7 linked regions of the Homo sapiens genome follow. The protein of the gene in region 2 purifies or fractionates together with the protein of the main gene of each other region. This does not show direct contact. Each region holds a gene or a part of one and is shown on either strand. Other genes may lie near its edges.

Region 1 (3,500 bases), on a different chromosome or scaffold from region 2:
AAGGAGAGTGTCTGTTTGAGCTATAAAACTAATTATAATTAATTATAAAACTAATTATAAAACGCTATATAGTTATAAACACAACTCTAGATATGCTATTCTTTTTTGCAAATAAATCTGCAAATTTATCAACAGCTCAATTCACGTAAGAACTAAACATCTATTTCGTGTGGGGGGATGAAGGGAGAATGTTCTGAAATACCAGTTTCAACTAAAGAAGTTCACATGGATCTCTTTAAACTGGATAACATGTTTTCATTTGTTTTTAAATATTAGTTTGAATAAGAAAAAAGTGAGATGCTTGTATTTTGAAAATCCTCAATAACCAGCGCAGATACAGTAAGAAATCCAACTAAGAAAGATCTACCATAAAAGGCTATTTTCCCACGTCCATTCCTTTCCTGCCCTCAACCTTGGAAATACACTACACCTTCCAAATACACACCATGGTTAACTGCTGCACTACTAGTAATAAAGACCATATATTAAAAACATCATTGGTCAAATTGACTTATTAGATTTTCATGAAGAAAATTTCATTTTCACAATTCTCCTTTGCTATAAGTTGTATGGAACTAAACCATGTAATTCAATTAGCTGTAAACTACCAGAAACTGTTAAATGCTAAATTCACCCTTTTAAAAGTATTTTATACAATGCCACATTCAGTTGCTCTACTGAAATATGGAAAAAAGATACGGCGATTTACAAAAACTGGTGTCAAGAATGTCAACAATAATTAATTGTAGACAATTAAAACACCACACAAGCTGACAAGTTTTAAAATGACCCTCTGAACATAACATTTAACACAATCATTCAAAAAGCCAAAAGAGCCACCTTGTTGCAGTAAATTGATTTTGTGGGAATCAATGAACAGGGAGGAAGTTGGTTCCTTGTATTTAAAATGAACAGTCCCCTAACAAACTGGGTTTCCTTTACTTACCCCTTGTAGCTGATTCGCTTGAAGGATCTCTGACACGGAGATGGCCAGACAAAGAGCCTGACTCAGATCTGCATCATCATCCTTAATTCCCAACAAAGTACTACCAAAGAGATGGTGATTATCCTGTTTGAAGGGAAATTTTTAAACATTATGAAAAAAAAAATCAAACTTTCTTCCTAAAAATATTCTTATTAAACCATGATAAAAGGTAAAATTATAATACTCTTGAGTTGTGATTTTTTAAAACTTAATACTACATAATCTCAAATTTTATAGGCTAAGAACTACAAAAATGTCACATAAAGTCCCTGTCAGTGTTCATACAAAATGAAAGACTAAGAAAAAAAAAACACATTCTAAATAGCTATTTTCTATACTACCACCTGTAGTTAATATTGAACTTTAAAAATGGTTACTTACAATTTTTCATATCTTAATAAAAACAAATATGTGGCAGAAATCTATTGCATAAATGAGTTAAAATACTGATCCACAGCCTGCTCTAATTCACAACTGCTAGTACAGTTTCACTATGTCTGAAGAATAAAAGGTGCAGCTCTTGAATAAGAAAAAAAATAAGACTTCTTTTTCATTCAGTATTTTAAACTACTATCCTACCATCTGACTTATACAGCATTGTTAGGAACTGAAGAGTTCTATATAAGAAAATTATTAAAATAGTTGAAACTGGTCCCTAGAAATAAGTCTTTTTAAATTAGTTATTTTTGAGGGAAAATGATCTTAAAAGGTTTCCTTTACCTGCTTTCTAAAACACAGTATACTAAACATAACTTAACTTTATCTTGACACTTCAGTGACACGATGAGTACCAACTAGAAATTATTATGGCAGAATGCTTTAAAAAAAAAGGTGCTCTCATGGGCACCTGAAGTCACATACAAACCTGTCTGCTTTATAAACTTGTGCCTCTTCCACTATTAGCTTTTGCTTCTTAGAGTTTCATTTTTCAGGAGTTCACATCACTCATACTTCTAATCTGGTGTCCTTTATTAGGCATCTGTCTGGTCTAAGGATCTAAGTCTTTACGGGGCCTAAATGACCTTTCTTTATAAGACAGCTCAGCATTATTAAGACTATACAAGCCTGAACTCCAGAGAAAAGTGGCAAAACTCTACCTCCTCCACTGGATTACTACTGTAATATAATTTTTTTTTTTTTTTTTTTGAGACAGAGTCTTCACTCTGTCGCCCAGGCTGGAGTGCAGTGGCACAATCTCAGCTCACTGCAAACTCCGCCTCCTGGGTTCACGCCATTCTCCTTCCTCAGCCTCCCGAGTAGCTGGGACTACAGGCGCCCACCACCACGCCCGGCTAATTTTTTGTATTTCTTAGTAAAGATAGGGTTTCACCGTGTTAGCCAGGATGGTCTCGATCTCCCGACCTCGTGATCCACCCACCTTGGCCTCCCAAAGTGCTGGGATTACAGGCGTGAGCCACCACGCCCGGCCCTGTAATATAATTTTTAAAGTCAAGAAAGCACTAATTTAGAAAATATCTCAGTCAATTTTCTTATGATCAGAAATAACAATAATCAGAAGAGAGGTAAGATGCGTTCTACTATCTTTTTAACTTGTCTGTTCCTCCACTAGGGAGGGTATTTACAGAGATGAAAAAAAAAAATCACACAAAACTACAACACATAAAGAAACAGAAAAAATTGACAACCTATTTTAACTAAAGTGAATATAAAGTAATAAAACAATGTACAAAATATGAAATACAACATAGTTGGTCATTTCTGGTCTTATACCTTCCTAAAAGAAGCCGGTGTTTTGCTGCAATAATACTGAGCCAGAGAGAAAAGGTCTTCTATATCTTCTATATTCAGACTGGATGGAGTATTTTCCAAGAACTCTGAAATATTATAGACATAATATTTAGTAGTTTGTGAAAAATGCAAATATTGTTTATGTATCAGAGCCGAAATATCTTCATCATAAATACTATGCAAATGGAGTCTCAACACTGGTGCTTTTACAATGACTTGTGGAAAAGTGGATTTCTCCAAATGAGCTGAAACGGCTAATGTAAATCTCTTGTCAGTGAAGGATAGTGTCAGGCAATCAAATCAAATTCATTAACCTTAATTAGAATTCTATGATTTATTTATTAAACATATATGAAGAAATGCCAAGGCCCCTGAACATAAAAAATGCCTAAGAAATAGTTACTGACTTAAAGAACTTTGTCTTGTGTGAAAAAATAAAAATAAATCATTATAATACAGTAAGATAAACATTGTTATACAGATAGAACAAAGTGCCAGGGAATATAGAGAGGAAGTAACTATCTCTATGTGGGGGATATGGTGGGGAGAATCCAAAAGGAGAACCAAGGTTTCACAATTGAAATATCATATAAACTGAGTATTGAAAGGTAAATTAAGGATGGGTAGGGAGGAACAGAGGAGGGCAATCTATTCGAACAGTGAAACTAATGAAATAGTATATGGAAAGGAATGAAAGAGTGAACAAATATGAAGGAATGAATGAAGATGGCAAAATAAAGGAAAATAGTCTTTAAGGTCTGTACCT
Region 2 (3,500 bases):
CAACAGGAATATAAACTTTTGGTTGAGATGAATAAACTCTACAGATTTGATGTATAACATTGTACCTGTAGTCAGCAGTAATGCATTGTACACTTAAAAGTTGTTAGGAAAGTAGATGTCATGTTAAGGGTTTTTACTACAGTAAAATAAAAAAAGAGTCCATGTGTCATAATGAAGATTAAATAACATAAAAAATGTGTGGTACAATCTGGCATATACAAACTACTTGTTAAATGTTAATATTTATTATTTAATGTTTATAATACTTAAAAGTCATTTTGTATTTCGCTGTCCTTCGGTTTTGCTTGTTTGTTTGTTTGTTTTGACACGGAGCCTTGCTCTGTCACCCAGGCTGGAGTGCAGTGGTGTGATCTTGGCTTACTGCAAACTCCACCTCCCAGTTCAAGCAATTCTTCTGCCTCAGCCTCCTGAGTAGCTGGGATTACAGGTTCGTGCCACCATGCCTGGCTAATTTTTCTATTTTTAGTGGAGACGGGGTTTTACCACGTTGGCCAGGCTGGTCTTGAACTCCTGACCTCGTGATGTGCCCGACTCGGCCTCCCAAAGTGCTAGGATTACAGGCGTGAACCACCGTGCCTGGCCAATTTTTGTATTTTTAGTAGAGATGGGGTTTTATCATGTTGGCCAGGCTGGTCTTGAACTCCTGGTGATCCGCCTGCCTCGGCCTCCCAAAGTGCTGGGATTATAGGTGTGAGCCCCCGCGCCTGGCCATCCTTTGTATTTTTTGATGAAAAAAAAAAATTTTTTTTTTTTTTTTTTTTTTAAGACAGAGTTTCACTCTTGTTGCCCAGGCTGGAGTGCAATGAGTGCAGTCTTGGCTCACTGCAATTCCCACCTCTCAAGTTCAAGCGATTCTCCTGTCTCAGCCTCCCGAGTAGCTCAGATTACAGGCACACGCCACCACGCCCGGCTAACTTTTGTATTTTAGTAGAGACAGGGTTTCATCATATTGGTCAGACTGGTCTTGAACTCCTGACCTCAGCTGATTTGCCCACCTTGGCCTCCCAAAGTGCTGGAATTACACAGGTGTGAGCCACCACGCCCGGCTGTTTTGATGAAATTTTTTGAAAGAATGTATTCATATTCCTGTAGATTTCCCATTTCCCACATTCCCTCAAATTTAGTTTCCGTGTTAATATCTTCTATTAATTTTGAACAGTGTCTTTATTGTAGTTTATGCAAAGTGAGGAGTGAGTGCCATACTTATTTTGCTTCCTGTTGAGAATAAACTGAAGTTAAATTACTGACATTTTGCATATTATCTCAATCATTTTTTAAGGACCTGTAAAACAGAATAAGGTGAATCCTAATTTGCTAGATGCAGATTTCTTGTAGCTATTTTTGATTCCTGCAGGCTGCTCTGATTTGCTACTTGAGGAGGAAAGCTGATTTGGGGGTTTTCTTTTTGTCTTGGTTCTAGCACATGCAGATGACAATCCAGGCTCTCCAGGATGAATTGCGGATCCAGAGGGACCTGAATCAGCTGTTTCAGCAGGATAGTAGCAGCAGGACTGGCGAACCTTGTGTAGCAGAGCTGACAGAGGAGAACTTTCAGAGGCTTCATGCTGAGCATGAGCGGCAGGCCAAAGAGCTGTTTCTTCTTCGAAAGACATTGGAGGAAATGGAGCTGCGTATTGAGACTCAAAAGCAGACCCTAAATGCTCGGGATGAATCCATTAAGAAGCTTCTGGAAATGTTGCAGAGCAAAGGACTTTCTGCCAAGGCTACCGAGGAAGACCATGAGAGAACAAGACGACTGGCAGAGGCAGAGATGCACGTTCATCACCTAGAAAGCCTTTTGGAGCAGAAGGAAAAAGAGAACAGTATGTTGAGAGAGGTATGTGACTACTTTTTTAGTTTTATGATTTGTTGGTTATCTTTTTTTTCACTGATTAATCAGCATCTTGGCCCCAGTGAATCTACGTGCTCTGCCGTGCTGGTGGAAGAGAATTTCATCCTTTGTATTTAAGTGCGTCACTGATTTCTGTTCTGATTTGCCCTGTTGTATGGGATGACATTGTCTGGTATGTATGCTGGCTCAGTGACTTTCTGGGTCTTTTCTCTCCTGCTCCCCTGATTTTGAGAGTTCATTTGTTGCTAAAGGGGTAAAAAATTCCTTGATTTTTCACTCATCTCTAGATCTGTTCATAGAGACAACAAACACAACAAAACCAGAATCAGAATAGCTAACCATTGCTTAATTTAAAAATATTAGTAAAAGAGAGTAAGCGGTTATCTCAGCTTATGTGTGCTTATAAAAGTCCTTGGCAGCAATAATGGATATTTGCCCTGTGGTTTCCATGGAAACTGTTGCCTTGCTGTAAAAGATACGTGATAAAAATCATTGGCTGCCATGGAGGCATAGCTGGAGAGAGTGATGTAGAGACACAGTGTTACTTATTTTTAGCTGACCTAGGTGACTACTGATAATTTTTTACTTTTCTAAATAATGTATCATTTTAAGAAGGCGTAAAGGAAGAAACCATCTTATATTGAATTAAAAAATTAATAGCCATAATAACTTTTCTATATATAGTTGGACTTCAGGTAATTTTCACTTTTGGGCAGGGGAAAATAAATCCCTAATCTGTGTTAGTATGAGTCTGAATAATTCCTTTTTAAATAAAATGTGAGGAAGGAGGTTTAAAAAATGGCGTATTCCCAAAGCAGCAAAATAATAATTTTTAAAAATACTTCTAAATTTGTAGGTTGTTCTATAATTTTTCCTTTTGTAAAAAGTCTGAAATCTTTTTTAACAGTGAGGGCATTTTTATTTTTGAAGTAGAACATCATTGTTTTTTAAAAACATGATGTTATTACACTGGAAATCCATTGTAGTAAAATTGGGAAATAGATTAACAAAAACTTATAACTCAAAGTATTGTTACCTAGTAGTAATTATTAACTTATGTATATGCTTCCAGTCATTTTTTTTTTATTTTAAATTTTTATTGTTTTTATTTTTAGAGATAGGGTCTCACTCTGTCACTCAGGCTGGAGTGCAGTGGCATGATCATGGCTCACTGCAGCCTTGAAATCCTGGGCTTAGGTGAGCCTTCTGCCTTAGCCTCCCTAGTAGGTAGGTCTACAGGTGCATGCCACCATGCATTGTTAATTTTTAAATTAAAAAAAAAATTTTGTAGAGACAGAGTCTCCCTATGTTGCCTAGGCTGGTCTTGAACTCCTGGCCTCAAGCAATCCTCCCTCCTTGGCTTCTGAAAGTGCTGACATTACAGGCAATATGCCTATGCCTGGCCCATTATTATTATTGTTGTTGTTGTTGTTGAAAGTGCTGAGATTACAGGCAATATGCCTATGCCTGGCCCATTATTATTATTATTGTTGTTGTTGTTGAAAGTGCTGAGATTACAGGCAATATGCCTATGCCTGGCCCATTATTATTATTATTGTTGTTGTTGTTGAAAGTGCTGAGATTACAGGCAATATGCCTATGCCTGGCCCATTATTATTATTATTGT
Region 3 (3,500 bases), on a different chromosome or scaffold from region 2:
AACACGTCTCTCATCACTAAACTGTAAGGCTTCCAGGACCCAATTGCTGGGACACAGAAGCTGTACCCAACAAGCAAAAATGCACTGTGGTAACCCGGGTGCGGGCGCTCGAGCCTGTGGTCCCAGCTACTTGGGAGGCCAAGGAGGCAGATCGCTTGAGCCCAGGAGTTTGAAACCAGCCTGAAAAATGTAGCAACACCCCATCTTAAAAAAAAAGAAAGAAAGAAAAAAAGGAAAGAAAAGGAAAAAAAATGCAGCCCGTAATGGGATGGACTGAGACCCCTCCAAGAGTCAGAGAAGCCCCCGTCTACTGTTTCTACCTGAGATCCTGATCCCCGATACCATCGTAGATGCAGCAGCCGCCCTCAGAAGGGAGCCTTCCACACACCCGTGCTAGTTCATCCCACAGGCGAACACACACGCACCTACGCACACCCCACACGCAGTCCTGAGTGAGCGGCCGCAGGCGGGGAGCGAGCCGCAGGCAGCTCTAAGATCTAGTGGACAGCCACAGCCAGCCAGGGGCCAGCGATCCACAGGGGCCAGGTCCAGGAGGCGCCCACCCCACCCTCCCTGCAGGCTCAAGAATCCAGAGGTGAGTGACGCTGGGCAGAACACTTACCCCAGAGGAGGACAGAAGCAGCCCGGGCTGAGTTGGCACCACGGAGATACGGCTCACAAACCTGTGAGGGCGAGAGAGAGCGGCAGAGTCAGCGAGCCCAGCGCCCGCAGGGACCGGGAGGCCTGGGGAGGCCGCCTGTTCATCTAAGGAAGAGAAGCCTCTGCCCTAAACCCCCTGATCCAATAAAAACAGCCAACATGGGAAGTAGCTGTTAACCCTAACCTGGTTAGGGTTAACCAGGTGGAGGCCCCTGGACGCAGTCGGGGAGGTGAGTGAGGTCATTCCTGGGTCCCCAACAGCACAGCAACCTCTAACCCAGGCCGCTCCTCAGCCATGCCTGCCAGAGACCCAAGCGCCTCTGTGCCCCTCTGCAGCCCCCTCTGCAGCAGCTCTGCTCAGCGGCACCTCTACAGGCCCCCCAGCACCCACCCTGGCCCAAGGCACCTGCACTGTGATGAAAGGAGCCTTGGGGGAGACTCAAAGACACGGGGGAGACTCAAAGACACAGCACACAGGGAGGAGGGTGGAGGGAGGAGGGCAGCCAAGCCCACAGGTTCCTATCAGGGTCCTGACGGCCCCTCAGCAACAACTCTGAGTGACCTGGCCAGACAGCTGTCTCTGCTGAGCCCGGCCCAGTCCTCCTGTGAGGGGTTGGCCTGCAAGCACAGGACTCAAAGTCACAGGGACCCTCCCATCAGAACAGCCATGAAGAATAACCCAAGCAGCCCAGCTCGCCTGGAAACCCATCTTGGCTCGGGCACCTACAAGGGTGACAAGGCCCCTTTTCTTCCCACTCTAACACAGTGGCCTCAAGCAATCCCTCATGCACGGGGTTCCCGGGGACCCTGGAATGGGGTGGCCCGTGAGCCTCACTCCATCTCCACCAGTCATGGCCTCTGCTACCTTGGGCTAGCCATCGCGTGAGCCGGGCCCGGTCCCGCAGCCACCGCCCTGCACGGCACCACAGCACCAACAGCAGCCCACAGCCCAGGACAGATAGGGCACAGGACGCCCCGTGCAGAGGGCACGAGTGGCCTCACAGTTCTCAACGGTTTGAAAGGCCGGGAAACCAGTTTCCAGGGGTCTGAAACAAAATCTCAAAACATAATTCGTCCAATCACTGCAGTTATCTACTGAGCACCTACTCATGCCAGGCACCACGCTGAGGGCTGCACACACCAACAGGCCCAACAGACCCACAGAACCACTCAGACGCAGCGGGAGACGGCCAGTGAACCAACTGATACTGCAATGTCAGCAAAGGGCACAGAACAGCACATCCAGCAGAAACACACCTCCAGCCACACACAGGGGCCACGGGGCTTTGTTTTCAATTTGCCAGCCACTATGTTGAAAAGTAAACGGGCAGGCCGGGCACGGTGGCTCACGCCTGTAATCCCAGCACTGTGGGAGGCCGAGGCGGGCGAATCATGAGGTCAGGAGATCAAGACCAGCCTGGCCAACATAGTGAACCCTCGTCTCTACTAAAAATACAAAAAAAAATTAGCCGGGCGTGGTGGCAGGGGCCTGTAGTCCCAGCTACTTGGGAGGCTGAGGCAGGAGAATCGCTTGAACCTGGAAGGCAGAGGTTGCAGTGAGCCAAGATCACGCCACTGCACTCCAGCCTGGGCGACACAGCTAAGAAAGAGAAAAGAAAGGAAGGGAGGGGAAGGGTGGGGTGGGGAGGGGGGAAGGAAGGGAGGGAGGGAGGGAGCAGTTGAAGTTAATTTTAATACTATGTTTTTACTCAATACTTCTAAGTGATGAAGCATTTCCCTAGAAGGGTGAGAAGCGTGTTCCCGTCAGCAGAAACCTCCCTCACGTGCCTGGCGAGGCAAGGGAGCTGCAGAGACCCCAGCGAGAGATGGTGAAGGGGAGGGGCCGGGGGGCTGCAGGCCAGAGAACTCCAGAGCTGGATCACTAGCGAACTAAATGCAAGTCAGAAGAAGCTATCCTGAGGCACACACCAGTGACTGGCCTTCTTAAACAGGAAATGTTTGGATCAAAACCAGGAAAACACAGGCAACCTCGGCACTGAATTTCCTCCCTCCAATTTCTTCCACTGCCTCAAATAATATATTTTAAAACATTTCAGCCAATTACACTAAGCGTTTTTCCTTTGTGTAAATTCTAATGAGCTTTTTGTGTGAGACAGGAGCGGGCATTCAGAAACACCTCCACATGGGTCCTGGCAGAGTGTGCTGCCACGAGAGACGCCGCCACCTGGCTGCAGAGGCCGCTTAATTCTTGGACAGCTGAAATCACTAAAGTTCATCCTCGCCCCCAACACCCCCACCACCCACCAGCGAACAACTCCCGGGCATGGTGCAGGGGTCTCCACACTGAGACAGGGGTTTCCCGGAAACAAGCCCTTCCTGTTCGGTCAGGCCCAATGCCAAGTTACTGGCACAGACTCCGGGTAACAGCGCAGAGTGAACCCCACCCTTTCAGGGCTTCTGCAGGCAGCACCACGGCGCCTGCAGTGACCAAACACCAAGCACGGGGGCTGCTGTCACCCGCGTGGGGCCTCGCCAGCTACAACGGCACCTGCTGAGCCGCAAGCTGACGCTGTTTTCAAACAGACCTTCTTTCTGCTGGAGGGGCAGGAAGGGGCACTCACTCTGTGTGCCCCAAGCAGAAGGACTCGATGCTATGGGGCGCCGCGGCCCAGCTGACTCGGATCTTCTCGTCCCGGTCGGCAGTGAGGATGAAGCGGTCATCAGGACTCACAGCCTGCATCACCAGGGGCCAGAAAAGAAAAAGCCGCTCACCTGAGTCTTCCCGAATCAAGTCCCTCATGGAAGAAGGCAGGGAAGCTGCAGCCTGGCCGCCAAGAGGATGAGGCCTTCGAGGACAGACCAGCGTGGCTCCTCCCCTC
Region 4 (3,500 bases), about 79 Mb from region 2:
TTAAGAAAACCCTGTCACTGATGTTTGGAGTTTAGGGAAAAGATTTGTTGGCAGTGGTGTGGATATGGAAGTACAAGTTTTAAGCAGATAATTTATAGGAATTAAATGTACATATTGCTGAAAGAAAAATACTTTTATTATGCAAACTAATTTCTGAATGCACAAATATTTCTTTAATACTATCAATATATTTTCACATATTATCGAAACAGTCTATTAATAGTAGAAATAAAATGGAAACTCTTTTTTTCTTTCAGTGCTTAGATGAGTACGAAGATGATGAAGCAGGGCAGAAAGAGCGGAAACGAGAAGATGCAATTACACAACAGAACACTATTCAGAATGAAGCTGTAAACTTACTAGATCCAGGCAGTTCCTATCTGCTACAGGTGAGTATTTAAAAATACCAGGAAGTCACTATCTATTTTAATGGCAATTTTTCAATTATGCCTCTTGAGTTGTATGTAGTAATATATCTCCCATTGCCTCCTTTCCTCCTACTTATGCCTTCCTTACCATAAGTGGGTTCTGACATCACATGTTGGGCTCACCGTAAGCATGAACACTCTCTTCACCCTTTTCCGGCTTGTGCATCCTTTGATAGGCTGTTCTGTAGGGCCTCTGTTTGCTCCTGCTGAGACTCGGAGAACTCATGTCGGATTGCTCCTCCATGGGGACTCTTCCTCAACTTGATTAGGTTTTGACAACTCCAGGCCAGACTGCCACTCCATGTGAACATTCACTTCATCCTGCCTGCGCTCTGGCACAGAATACCCCATGCCAGGCTGCCTCTTGGAGGGTAGACATTTTTTACCCTGCTAGAGCTCTATCACCCTTTTCTGAGCCACCCTCCTGTAAAGGTAAACTTCACATTCTACTTGGGACTCTGGCTGCCCCTTTATGGGACTCCCTTTCTGACCTTGCCTCACAAATGAGGCCTTACCTTCCCTGCTTTGTAGAAATCTTCTTCATTCTGCTCAGGCTCTGATTTCTTAGGTCAGGCTGAGTGAGCTGTGCTATGTGAGCAGTCTCCTTGGTTTGCTTGGACTTGAATTCTCTATGCCAAGCAGCTCTTCTTTATGACAGGTTCTGATACCCTGATCTGAGCCACTGTGTTTTCTCACGTTGCTCTGCCCTGCCTAATGGCTTTAGGACTTAATTATTCAGGAAAGGAAGGGGAAGGATGAGTTTTTCCTTTTAAAATATTTGTTAATTTGATAAAGCTCTTATTTTTCATTTTCTTATTTTATCAGTTATATATTAGAGAAATTTTATTCTGAAGTCATCTTCAACAATATATCATACTAAATTATACATGGCAACATAGATATTTTAAGTTAGTCCTGAGGGTCAGTTAGCATGTTATGCCATAATTTTACTGAGGGCTGTGGCTTTGTTGCTAGATTATTTGAATAACATCAGTATTACTTTGCTGTATTCATCTGACTTGTATTTGTCTGATCTTATTTCACCTATGCTGTTATACTTGTTTATACGTTAGAAGTTCTGATCTGCCACTGTACCTGTAAAGACTGTTTTCATGGGGATTTCCTTATTGATCTTTATAAGCTTGAATAAAGCAGAGCGTTTTATTTAAACTTACACAAAACAGTTTGTGCTTTGCCAACATTTTCTCAGCTCTACATAGATCTTTCCCCTTCCCTTTAGTAATAGAAACCATCCCATTGCAAGGAAGATTGTTTCAGAAAGAGTATATTTGAAATCAGTTGTATAACAGACTTAAGGATTTGGGGGAGATCTAATTACGTAGTCTTTGAAACTTTTAAGACCAGTACCAGTCTTAACAGTTGTACTTTTTACAAGCCGTTTCAATGATACTAGTATAGCAGTACCCCCATATCAAAGGGAGTTATGTTCCAAGACCTCCAATGGATGCCTGAAATCATAGATAGTACTGAACGCTATATATACTATGCACATATTTGTTTTTCCTTCCTTACAATTTCATGGATAGAAGATATGTTCTTATCATAAAGCTTAGCAACTTCAGGATATGATTTTTCTTTCTTTCGTTATTAAGCTGAGAATTTTCACCTTTTTACTTAAAGCAAGCACTTTACAGCTTCTCTTTGGCATATCAGAATTGCCAGCATCACTACTCTTGTACTTTGGGGCAATTATCAAGTAAAAGAAAAGTTAATTGAACACAATCACTGGGATACCACAACAGTCTGATAACCAAGGTGGCTCCCGAGTGACTAATAGGTAGGGAGCATAGACACTGTGGTTACATTTTACAAAGGGATGATTCAGGCCCTGGGCGAGATGGAGCAGGACAGCACCAAGTTTCATCATGCTAGTCAGGACAACTCACAACTTAAAGTTTATAAATTATGTCTCAAGTTTTCTATTTAATATTTTAATTTATTAATTAAAATACTAAAATTTTATCAATTAAAATTATTAAATAACAAATATTAAAAATTATTAATCTAGCTTTATTAATACCCATGGGTTGACCATGGGTAACTGAAACTGTAGAAAGTGAAAGCTTGGATAAGGGAAAAAGGACTACTGTATTTCTTCATTTTTTTTTTCCCTATTTAGTATGGAGTAGTAATTATTAAAGTGCCAAATAATTATATAGTTGTTTCTTTGCCTGGAAATTGTTGTGGCTACAGAAATATAGTTAAGACATCTAAGGTGACGTTTATATTTGTGTGGAATTTTGTTCTACCATGTAAGAATGTCAAGCATTTTCCTCGTTAAAATTATCAGGGACTTATTTCAGTGAACATAATGTCCTCTGCCGTCATCCATTTTGTCGCAGTGATCTCACTTATATGTGGAATCCAAAAAAGTCAAACTCATAGAAGTAGAGAGTAGAATGGTGATTACCAGAGGCTAAGGTAGATGGAGAAAGGAGAAACATTGGCCAATGGGTGCAAAGTTACAGTTAGATAGGAGGAATAATTTCTGTTTTATTGCACAGTAAGGTGATTATAGTTCATAATAATGTATATTTCAAAATAGCTAAGAGTATTTTAAATGTTCTTACCAGAAAGAAGTGATAAGGGCCTGGTGCAGTGGCTCATGCCTGTAATCCCAGCACTCTGGGAGGCCGAAGTGGGTGGACCACTTGATGCCAGAAGTTCAAGACTAGCCTGGCCAACATGACAAAACCCCATCTCTTCTAAAAATACAACAATTAGCTGAGCATGGTGGTGTTCACCTGTAATCCCAGCTACTCAGGAGGCTGAGGCACAAAAATTACTTGAACCTTGGAGGCGGATGTTGCAGTCAGCTGAGATCACACCACTGCATTCCAGCCTGGGTGACAGCGAGACTGTGTCTCAAAAAAAGAAACAAAAAAAAAAAGAAGTGATGAGTATTTGAGGTAATTCTGTATAGGTTGTTCTTTGCATTGCTATAAAGAGACACCTGAGATTGGATAATTTATAAGAAAAATAGGTTAAATTGTCTCACACTTCTACAGGCTACACAAGCATGGCATCAACATGTGCTCAGCTTCTTATGAG
Region 5 (3,500 bases), on a different chromosome or scaffold from region 2:
TGGGGGTTTGATATTTTATTGATTCAAGTGCCCTGCAGGTGAGTTGTTACAGAATTGGTCAAAGACTCTTGGCAGCTTTGGCCCAGCTTCAGGGTCAGGGGAATATAGCCTGCAGAGTGACAGTTGACACTGGAGCAGTCCTATAAACCAGGTGCCCATGTTTCCCATCCTTCTCCCTGCCCTGTCAACAGTACGTGTGGTGGCAGGAGTGACTGATCACCTGAAGGAGAATAGTACCAGTGCTGTGGCTTCTATGTCCCATGCTTTTAAGTCATTGTTATCTACCCCTTGCTTCCTTTTAGTAAGAGCTGGATATGGAAAGAGGTCAAAAGTTCCTGAAAGGAAATGAGAAACAAGTGGATAGTCAGTGGTTATCTTATAATAAAAGATATTACAAAGAAAATAAATATAGAACCACAAAAATCAAATATAGGTGCGAAGAAGAGTTTGATCAAGTACTCATCCAGCTTCTTAAGCTTTGGTCGCAAAGGATACGGATTGTCTCAGGAATGCTGGTATCCAGACAATCAATGATCTGCTGGAGCTCTTCCTGCATTCCAGGGGTCTGGAACAGGTCCTCCTACCAAAGAAGTCAGAATGAAGGGACAGGCAAGATAATCACTCCTGAGGTTATGATGATTACCCAAGGATCAGAAGAGCAGCAGGAAGCAAAAGGGAAGGGTGGTATGTGTGTTAATAATTACAAATGGAGGTGTGAAAATAACACATTTTTCCTTTAGCATTTCTCTAATCCATGTGAAATGTTATTTCAAATAGGAAAATGATCTTTTCAAAGGTTTTAGCCTGTACCTAATAAGGCAGGGGACTAGATGGCTAGAGCAGGAAACCAGGTGTTCTAATTCTAGCCTCCTTTAAAATTTTTTTTTATAGAGATGGGGTTTCACCGTGTTGCCCAGGCTGGTCTCAAACTCCTGAGCTCAAGCAATGCGCCCGTCTCTGCCTCCCAAAATGCTGGGATTACAGGCATGAGCCACCATGCCTGGCCTACTTGTAGCCTCTTGACAAGCAGCAGAAGGCAGAGTCCAAACAGAATAACCACATTCAAATGCTAGTACTACTGAACGCTGGGGAAGGAGGAAATCGCATGCTCATACTAAACCTTGCTTTCAAGTTACATTATTCGTCAGTAGGTAAGAGAACATTACCTTTCAATTTAGTCCCAAGAAATATCTCTTTTGGGGGCGAATGAGGTGGGGTGGCATTTTAGTTAGGATTTAAAAGAAAAATTAGGACCAAGTTAAAAAATGGGTTTAAAATCTGCTTTGGATTTTACAATCTCTAATGCCTACATGACTCATAGCCAAAGTAGGCATTATAGACTCAGGTGTGCAGCTGTCCAGGGAAAATGAGAGGGTAGCCAGGAGACAGGTGCTCTTAATTTGGTCCTGGCTCTGCCACAACTACACTTAGGCCTTTGTCTTAGTAAATAACTTACCTTTACATGCTTCAGCTGTGACATCTGTGACTAGGACACTTCCACCCACCCAGTCGATCTGACAGTGCCACTGTGTGCAGGTAGCTTGGGAAAGTTAAAAGCGCTATGCTGACGTGAGGTGTTGTGATTTCCTATAGTAGTTACACACCTTCCAAAGTTGTAGGGAAGGTCTACTCTCACTTACCTGGTGACAGGCGTATTTGAATAGGTGATCTACTAGAAGCCAGATCTCCTTGGGAACCTGAAGGGGTCTCTCACTGGCACCTTCATCCAAAGGAACCATTTGCAGAAGGGATTTCTCCTAATAGATGGAAAAGTATGAGAATCAAAGGGGTCTCAGAATAAAGACTTTGGTGTATAACTTAAAGTCCTTCAAATTCTGGTCATGCAGGTAAAATGTGATCTTCATCTCTTAAGATTTTCCATTTCTTCTCACTGGGGACACTCCTGGTCAGAAGGCACTTGATAGCGAGTCCCATAGTTAAAGGATGTCCTTTCCTAAATGCTTCACTTAATTGTTCTGCATTTCATTTGCGTTTATGATGTTTATTACGTGGATGCCTTGTGTTTAAATCCTTTCAAAGGTGACACTGAGAACCAGTGCTCCGGTGATACAGTCACAGTGGAGTCCATACAGCACTGGTGACTTGGGGACTATTAAATTACAATTGTCAATACAGTAGTTTGAGAGATCAAGGTCTACACTTAGGTTTTTGTTTATTTCTAACTTACTCTTCCTTCAGGTCTTACCACAGATACTGTTGTTTGTTTTCAATGTTGATTTAAATTAGCTTCTTTAGTTTTCAGGAATTAAAGACAACTCTCCACAACATTAGACCCACATATGTAAATACTTCAGGCTTGATGGAAGTTCTAATCTTAAGGTGCTAAAACTCGTAAGCCTTAAGGTCCAAAAATAGTAAACTGAATACAGCTAACCAAGAGGCAGAAATACCACGAAAAGTTTAAGGTCTGAGTCCAGAAGTTACAGTTTCTAGGAATAGCTCAGCCAAGATTTCTAGGGGCTTTTACTCCTTTCATCTATCTTTCTACTATCTGTTATATTCTTCTGAAAGAATTTTGTAAGAGAAAAACCCAGAAGTGACATAAATCAAATCAATCACTATATGTGAATTGGAAATGGCTAGGAAATAAACTCAGTTATCTTAGGTTCATGTAATCAAATATAAATTACATGAAAAAATGTTTGAAATAGTAAAGGCACCTGAAGGCACCCTTCATAAAAATCCCAGTGGAGAGAACCATGACCAATTTTTTTGCATCCTCCTCCCTCCCCCGCCTCTAGCTTGAGGTCATATATATTCTGTATGTTTAACTAAGAAATTCTTGCCTAACATTGTGCAACTTGTGAATTCCATCCACAACCCCCAGTCACGTAGCTTTAAAAGAAAAAAAAAGGAGCATGTCACTACTTTGACAGAGACCACATACACTACAGCCGAGCTGAGGTCTCTTCTTAACATTGTGTTCTTTAACAAGCACTGATGACCTTTAAAAGCTGCTGTGCCTTTCCAAGGGAATAAGAAAGAGAAGGGAGTGTGACAGTTGGTTACCATTTAAAATCTTTCTTTTTTTTCCCCACATTCAGTTTGCTTCCTTTCTTTCCCTGGGATTCTATCACTTGATATTCATGTTCCTAATAGTTGCCAGAATGTCTATCAATGGCTCATCCATTTACTTCTTTCCAGTTACAAATATCAAATCCAAGCATCCACATGGTATTTGAGACAAAACACTGTCCATCATGCACTCTGCTAACTCTCTGGACCAAATGCAGCACGTGTACTGATTCTTTAGCAGATGCCTCCAAACTTGCCATATAGAAATTATGCAGCACTGATTCATGTACTTTTTAAAAAGTCTGACATCCAACTGGAGCTTTTCCTGTACTAAGGCATTAAGGCAACACAAGGCACTGCCTAAGATAAAAAGACAGAACATGGACTGCTCTTAACAGGGAAGAGCTAGGAAGCACAGCTGTCTCAAACCTTGGTGGTTTAAAAAGGTTAATAAAGTGTCAGTA
Region 6 (2,254 bases), on a different chromosome or scaffold from region 2:
TGCACCTAAAATGTTAAGGTAAAGAGTCATTTACATGTGAGCAATAACTAAGAGATCTGAAATAGTTTCTAGATTACTGGTAACACAGCTCATTTCCTAATTCAGATTTTAAAAAATCTGGAATGCCAACTGGACATAGATTTTAGAGTTCTGTCCAGGGTTGTACTCTTCCAGCAGAGACTATGAGTTTCCCATATCAGTGTCATCAAAAGAAACTTGACAGTGTTACAAAATTACCTCCTGTGAAATAGCAAGACTATTTCTTATGGAATAAACAAGAAAGAATCTTGTTCTACCGAATTCTTGACTCACCAACACAATTTTTTTTTTTTTTTTGGAGACAGAGTTTCACTCTTGTTGCCCAGGCTGGAGTGCAGTGGCATGATCTGGACTCACTGCAACCTCCACCTCCCAGGTTTAAGCAGTTCTCCTGCCTGAGCCTCTCGGATTACAGGTATGTACCACCACGCCCAGCTAATTTTTGTATTTGTAGTGGAGACAGGGTTTCACCATGTTGGCCAGGATGGTCTCGATCTCTTGACCTTGTGATCCACCCACCTTGGCCTCCCAAAGTGCTAGGATTACAGGCGTGAGCCACCGTGCCCAGCCAACACCACAAAATATTATTAACATGTCTTGCTAGTGAATTTTTTTTTTTTTTTTTTTTTTTGAGACGGAGTCTCACACTGTTACCTGGCATGATCTCGGCTCACTGCAACCTCCGCCTCCCGGGTTCAAGCGATTTTCCTACCTCAGCCTCCCAAGTAGCTAGGATTACAGGCACCCGCCACCACACCTGGCTAATTTTCTGTATTTTTAGTAGAGACAGGGTTTCACTATGTTGGCCGGGCTGGTCTTGAACTCCTGACCTCGTGATTTGCCCGCCTTGGCCTCCCAAAGTGCTGGGATTAGAGGCGTGATCCACCGCGCCCGGCCTCTGGCTAGCGATTTTTAAAGAGCACTAGGGATGTAGACTGAATGATTTATTATTTGTAGAATTTAGAACAATGCCTGGTACATGGTAGTCACATAAATTATGTCATTAAGACCAAAACTTTCAGCCAGCCACGGTGGCTCACGCCTGTAATCCCAGCACTTTGGGAGGCCACCAAGGTGGGAGGATTGCTGGAAACCAGGAGTCAAGACTCACCTGGGCAACAACTTATCTTTACAAAAAAGTAAAAATAAAAAAAATTAGCCAGTCACAGTGGCATGCACCTGTAGTCCCGGCTACTCAGGAGGCTGAAGTGGGAGGATGGCTTGGGCCCAAGAATTTCAGGCTGCAGCGGGCTACGATCATGCCACTGTACTCCAGCCTGAGTGATGGAGTGAGACTTCATAATAAAAAAAAAAAAAAAGAAAAAGAAAAATACCTAAATTTTCTCATCTCCTACTATAAATGTATGGAACTGGAACAGATTCACATATTACTAAAATAATTAATATATTTCCAAGAGAATGACAGTTATTTATCTCTTACCATTTGTACTAATGCACACAGCTTGATCCCGCTGCAGAGAGTCATATCCATCCTGTTTTTCTGCACACACTCCTATGCTATCTCTTCTGTCTGGCTGTCCCACAGTTTCAACTCTGTAAATGAAGTAGAAAGGTCATTTCATACTTTTAAAAATATAACATGAATGATACTTAACAGCCACTAGCTTAAAAAGAGCAATCTCACCACAATTGTTTTTTTCTAAATAGTACAGCAACCATGATTGAGTTCTTGCTATACTCCAGGCACTGTTCTAATTATTTTATATCTATCTATCATTCTTACAACAATCTATGAGGTAGGTGCTTTTTCTTTTTTGTTGAGACGGAGTCTCGCTCTGTCACCCAGGCTGAAGTGCGGTGGTGCGACCTTGGCTCACTGCAACCTCCGCCTCCCGGGTTCAAGCAGTTCTCTGCTTCAGCGTCCCAAGTAGCTAGGATTACAGGTGCCCGCCACCATACCCGGCTAAGTTTTCTATTTTTAATAGAGATGGGGTTTCACCATCTTGGCCAAGCTGGTCTTGAACTCCTGACCTTGTGATCCACCCACCTCGGCCTCCCAAAGTGCTGGGATTACAGGCGTGAGCCACTGCGTCCAGCCGGTAGGTGCTATTTTTAACATACCCATTTTATAAGTGAGGAAAATGAGGCACGAAAAGAAAAAAAGATTAAAAATAGCTAAATAACCTGATCCCGACTACCTGGCTGATGACTGGTGGAACCAGGACTCAAACACAGGCATTCTGACTCTAGAATC
Region 7 (3,500 bases), on a different chromosome or scaffold from region 2:
GGCTTAGTGAGGAGAATGGATGGCCCCTGGGTCCCATCTCCCGTCGCTAGAGAACTGGGGAGCAAGAATTGGAGTTCTGGCCGGGCATGGTGGCTCACACCTGTAATCCCAGTACTTTGGGAGGTCGAGGCAGGAGGATCACCTGAGCCCAGGAGTTCAAGACCAGCCTGGACAACATGGCGAAACGCCACATCTACAAAAAGTTTTAAAAATTAGCCGGGTGTGGTAGCACGTGCCTGTGGTCCCTGTTGCTTGGGAGGCTGAAGTGAGAGGATCATTTGAGCCCAGGAGGTTGAGGCTACAGTGAGCTGTCATTGCACCACTGCTCTCTAGCCTGGGCAGCGGTGTGAGACCCTGTCTCAAAAAATAGTAAGAAAAAAGAATTGGAGTCCTTGTCCATCGTAATGCCTGCATAGTAGTCAGGGAAGAAGAAGAGCACCACAGTGGGCCCTGGGCACTCACTTCTGCTCTGGGCCTCGCAGGCAGCTGAGCCTGAGGTGGAGGTGGAGGTGTACCGGCGGGACTCCAAGAAGCTGCCAGGCCTGGGAGACCCTGACATCGACTGGGAGGAGAGCGTCTGCCTGAATCTCATCCTGCAGAAGGTATGGGGTGGGATGGGTGGGGCTGCGGATTGGCCCTGTGGGATGGCTGACCCCTCCCTGCACGCTGACCCGTGCTCTCTTCCAGCTGGACTACATGGTGACCTGTGCGGTGTGCACACGTGCTGACGGCGGGGACATTCACATCCATAAGAAGAAATCTCAGGTGAGCCCTGGCACGAGAGCCCCCAGCCTCCTAACTGCCAGTTCAGGCTGGGCGTGGCAGAGAGAGACAAGTCCTCCTGCTTGCTTCTCTGCCCTGGAGGTGAGGGGTCTGACTCCAGAAATCTGCTCAGCTCCTGGGATCCCGTATCCCATTCGAGGAGCACAGAACCAGCTTATCCCCCACATCTCCTGGTAGGTCTCTGGCTTTGGACTGGCTCTGGGCCGGGTGGCCTCCCTATACTGGCTTGGACTGGCTCTGGGCCTGTGTGCCGGGTGGGGCCTCACTTGTCCTCCAAATCTGCTTTCTTCCAGCAAGTGTTCGCGTCCCCCAGTAAACACCCCATGGACAGCAAGGGGGAGGAGTCCAAGATCAGCTACCCCAACATCTTCTTCATGATTGACAGCTTCGAGGAGGTGAGCTCTGCACAGGGCCTCTCTCCTTAGCTTCCCCTTCTCGTGAGATGGGTGTTAGGCGCTTCTCCCCGCGGCCTTAGCCTTGCAGAAAGGCATGGGTGGCTTGGAGCCGGGAAGAGTCCGGCTGAGGCAGATGTGGCTCTCTCTCTTCCCAGTGTTTGCTTGTGGGCAGGTGAATTTCCCCGGCGCAGCCTCCGTTTCCTCCTCTGTAAAATCAGTGTCATGATCATCTGTCCTACTTACTGTCAGGGCTGAAGACTAAAAGGCTCCTGAGTGGGAGGACGCCTCATAAACTCTTGCAAGAAGCACTGCCCGGGCGGGAGGAGCCATTATTAATGCTAGTAAATGATAAAGAAGCGCCTCCACGCCTGCACTGACTTGGAATCCTAGGATGTCAAAGAGGGATGGGGTTTCCGGAGTTATCTGGGCCAAGCCTTTGTTTTAAGGTTTGGGAAACGGGCTTGGGCAGAAGGAGACTCACCGAGAAACACAGGGCACTGGGAGGGCGGGGAGGGAGCCGGTCGCAGCTCACTCCCTGCTCTGCCCATTTGTGTCTCTCCTCTGTTGAGGCCCTGGTCGGGGTCCTTGTGCGCATCCAAGGTGCTCAGGGCCCTGAGGACTTAGGAGGAAGGCGTGGGCGTCTGCAGGAAAATCGCAGGCTCAGGGAGGTCATGTCCCCTCCCCAGGCACACGTAGCTCCTAGAGGGCAGAGCTGAGATTTGCGTCTAAGTCTTTGTGGCCTCGGAGCTCACAGTCTGTGCACCAGGTCCTGGGAGCAATGACTCGGGAAGGTGGCAGGATGGGGCCTGTGGCACCTTAGTCTGGTGTTGTCACCCCAGGTGGGCAGTCACCCTGCCACCACACTGAGCCTTTGGCCACACAGGAGCCTCAAAGATGTGGCAGGCAGGGCTGGGCACCCCTAGGCGGTGTGGAGGGGCCCAGACGGTGGCTGACGGTCCTGGTGAACCGTGATGAGGGTGTGCGTCTTCTGCCAGTCCCAGAGTCTCCGTAAGCGTCCCTGTCCTCCCCTGCTGCTCAGCCCCTGCCCCAGTGTGAGGCTGTTCTTGTCCTGTGGGGCTCGGAGGGCATGGGGCCACAGGAGTGTGTGACAGCCGGTTGTCCCCTGCAAAATGGGGTTTTCTGAGCAGCCCTCCCTGCCAGTTGGGCCAGGCTGTGGTGTGGGCGGTGGGAGCTGATGGTCACGTCCCTGTCTCTTTGTGTCCTGGCCCAGGTGTTCAGCGACATGACCGTAGGGGAAGGAGAGATGGTCTGTGTGGAGCTGGTGGCTAGTGACAAAACCAACACGTTCCAGGGGGTCATCTTTCAGGGCTCCATCCGCTACGAGGCGCTCAAGAAGGTGTATGACAACCGGGTGAGTGCGGGGCGGCCTCACGGGTGTTCTTCTGGGCCCGGGGACGGCGGCTCCACAGCCCACCGTGGTCCATACCATGGGGCCCCCCAGCCTGCTTGTGCATGGTAGCGGCCGCCAGGGGTACCTGCAGCCCCTCCGGGCTCCTTCTAGGCGCTCCCTGGTCCTCTTAACGTCATTCTTCATGGTCGGCCTCAGCCCATGCGGGCCACTTGCCTTCATCTGAAATGTGAGCGGGAACTTCCTCCTCAGTCTCTAGTTCCCTGGGAAGTGATGGCTGATGGTGTCGCTGTCACCTCCTCACTGTCACTTGCTTCCTGCGACTGGCCCTGGGAGTGCTCCGAGTCGCCCCCAACTAAGCAAGCAGATGTGGGCAGGCCCCTCTCCCCCAGCGGGCACCATCCGCAGCCAGCCTTGCTGCCAGCCTGGGGCCCTGTCCTCAGCCTGGTCCGTGGTTCATGGGGCGGTGGGAGGGGCACCAGGAGGGGCACCAGGCAGAGATGTGGGTCCATTCCAGCTGCCCCGCCTGCCAGCTCAGACGCTCCCTCCCGGGCAGCCCCCGCTCCTTGAGGGATGGTCGCCCTGGCTGTTCATGTCCTGGGGAGGGGCCCCATGGAGCCATCGCCACCTCCCTGACTCAGGCTGCCCCGCGCCGGCCCCCAGGTGAGCGTGGCCGCCCGCATGGCACAGAAGATGTCGTTTGGCTTCTACAAGTACAGCAACATGGAGTTTGTGCGCATGAAGGGCCCCCAGGGCAAGGGCCACGCCGAGATGGCGGTCAGCCGAGTGTCTACAGGTGACACATCCCCCTGTGGGACTGAAGAGGACTCCAGCCCAGCTTCGCCCATGCACGAGCGGGTAAGGGCTGCACAGCTGGGGGCGGGGGCTCCCATCCGTCAAGTTCACTTTCCACCGTCTCCCCCGTGCTCACGGCCCCCTGGGGACATAGGTGT

Evidence for each region.
Region 1: the proteins of ERC1 (region 2) and TBC1D23 fractionate together in Homo sapiens (co-fractionation; one large-scale study listed by BioGRID). This does not show direct contact.
Region 3: the proteins of ERC1 (region 2) and WDR4 fractionate together in Homo sapiens (co-fractionation; one large-scale study listed by BioGRID). This does not show direct contact.
Region 4: the proteins of ERC1 (region 2) and PAWR fractionate together in Homo sapiens (co-fractionation; one large-scale study listed by BioGRID). This does not show direct contact.
Region 5: the proteins of ERC1 (region 2) and OCRL purify together in Homo sapiens (co-immunoprecipitation; one large-scale study listed by IntAct). This does not show direct contact.
Region 6: the proteins of ERC1 (region 2) and CRLF3 fractionate together in Homo sapiens (co-fractionation; one large-scale study listed by BioGRID). This does not show direct contact.
Region 7: the proteins of ERC1 (region 2) and KIAA0930 purify together in Homo sapiens (co-immunoprecipitation; one large-scale study listed by IntAct). This does not show direct contact.

The regions. Positions count from the first base shown.
Region 1 is NC_000003.12:100,295,492-100,298,991, reverse strand, and holds part of TBC1D23 (TBC1 domain family member 23), read right to left. Parts: intron 2,821-3,500; coding exon 2,717-2,820; intron 1,070-2,716; coding exon 947-1,069; intron 1-946. UniProt on the Homo sapiens protein: Putative Rab GTPase-activating protein which plays a role in vesicular trafficking. Involved in endosome-to-Golgi trafficking.
Region 2 is NC_000012.12:1,081,723-1,085,222, forward strand, and holds part of ERC1 (ELKS/Rab6-interacting/CAST family member 1), read left to right. Parts: intron 1-1,441; coding exon 1,442-1,858; intron 1,859-3,500. UniProt on the Homo sapiens protein: Regulatory subunit of the IKK complex. Probably recruits IkappaBalpha/NFKBIA to the complex. May be involved in the organization of the cytomatrix at the nerve terminals active zone (CAZ) which regulates neurotransmitter release.
Region 3 is NC_000021.9:42,859,040-42,862,539, forward strand, and holds part of WDR4 (tRNA (guanine-N(7)-)-methyltransferase non-catalytic subunit WDR4), read right to left. Parts: intron 3,356-3,500; coding exon 3,243-3,355; intron 684-3,242; coding exon 623-683; intron 1-622. UniProt on the Homo sapiens protein: Non-catalytic component of the METTL1-WDR4 methyltransferase complex required for the formation of N(7)-methylguanine in a subset of RNA species, such as tRNAs, mRNAs and microRNAs (miRNAs).
Region 4 is NC_000012.12:79,617,965-79,621,464, reverse strand, and holds part of PAWR (PRKC apoptosis WT1 regulator protein), read left to right. Parts: intron 1-257; coding exon 258-389; intron 390-3,500. UniProt on the Homo sapiens protein: Pro-apoptotic protein capable of selectively inducing apoptosis in cancer cells, sensitizing the cells to diverse apoptotic stimuli and causing regression of tumors in animal models.
Region 5 is NC_000023.11:129,585,259-129,588,758, reverse strand, and holds part of OCRL (inositol polyphosphate 5-phosphatase OCRL), read right to left. Parts: intron 1,758-3,500; coding exon 1,641-1,757; intron 581-1,640; coding exon 496-580; intron 1-495. UniProt on the Homo sapiens protein: Catalyzes the hydrolysis of the 5-position phosphate of phosphatidylinositol 4,5-bisphosphate (PtdIns(4,5)P2) and phosphatidylinositol-3,4,5-bisphosphate (PtdIns(3,4,5)P3), with the greatest catalytic activity towards PtdIns(4,5)P2.
Region 6 is NC_000017.11:30,784,439-30,786,692, forward strand, and holds part of CRLF3 (cytokine receptor-like factor 3), read right to left. Parts: intron 1,594-2,254; coding exon 1,481-1,593; intron 455-1,480; exon of another isoform or gene 345-454; intron 6-344; coding exon 1-5. UniProt on the Homo sapiens protein: May play a role in the negative regulation of cell cycle progression.
Region 7 is NC_000022.11:45,202,895-45,206,394, reverse strand, and holds part of KIAA0930 (uncharacterized protein KIAA0930), read left to right. Parts: intron 1-482; coding exon 483-602; intron 603-687; coding exon 688-765; intron 766-1,076; coding exon 1,077-1,178; intron 1,179-2,409; coding exon 2,410-2,550; intron 2,551-3,210; coding exon 3,211-3,405; intron 3,406-3,500.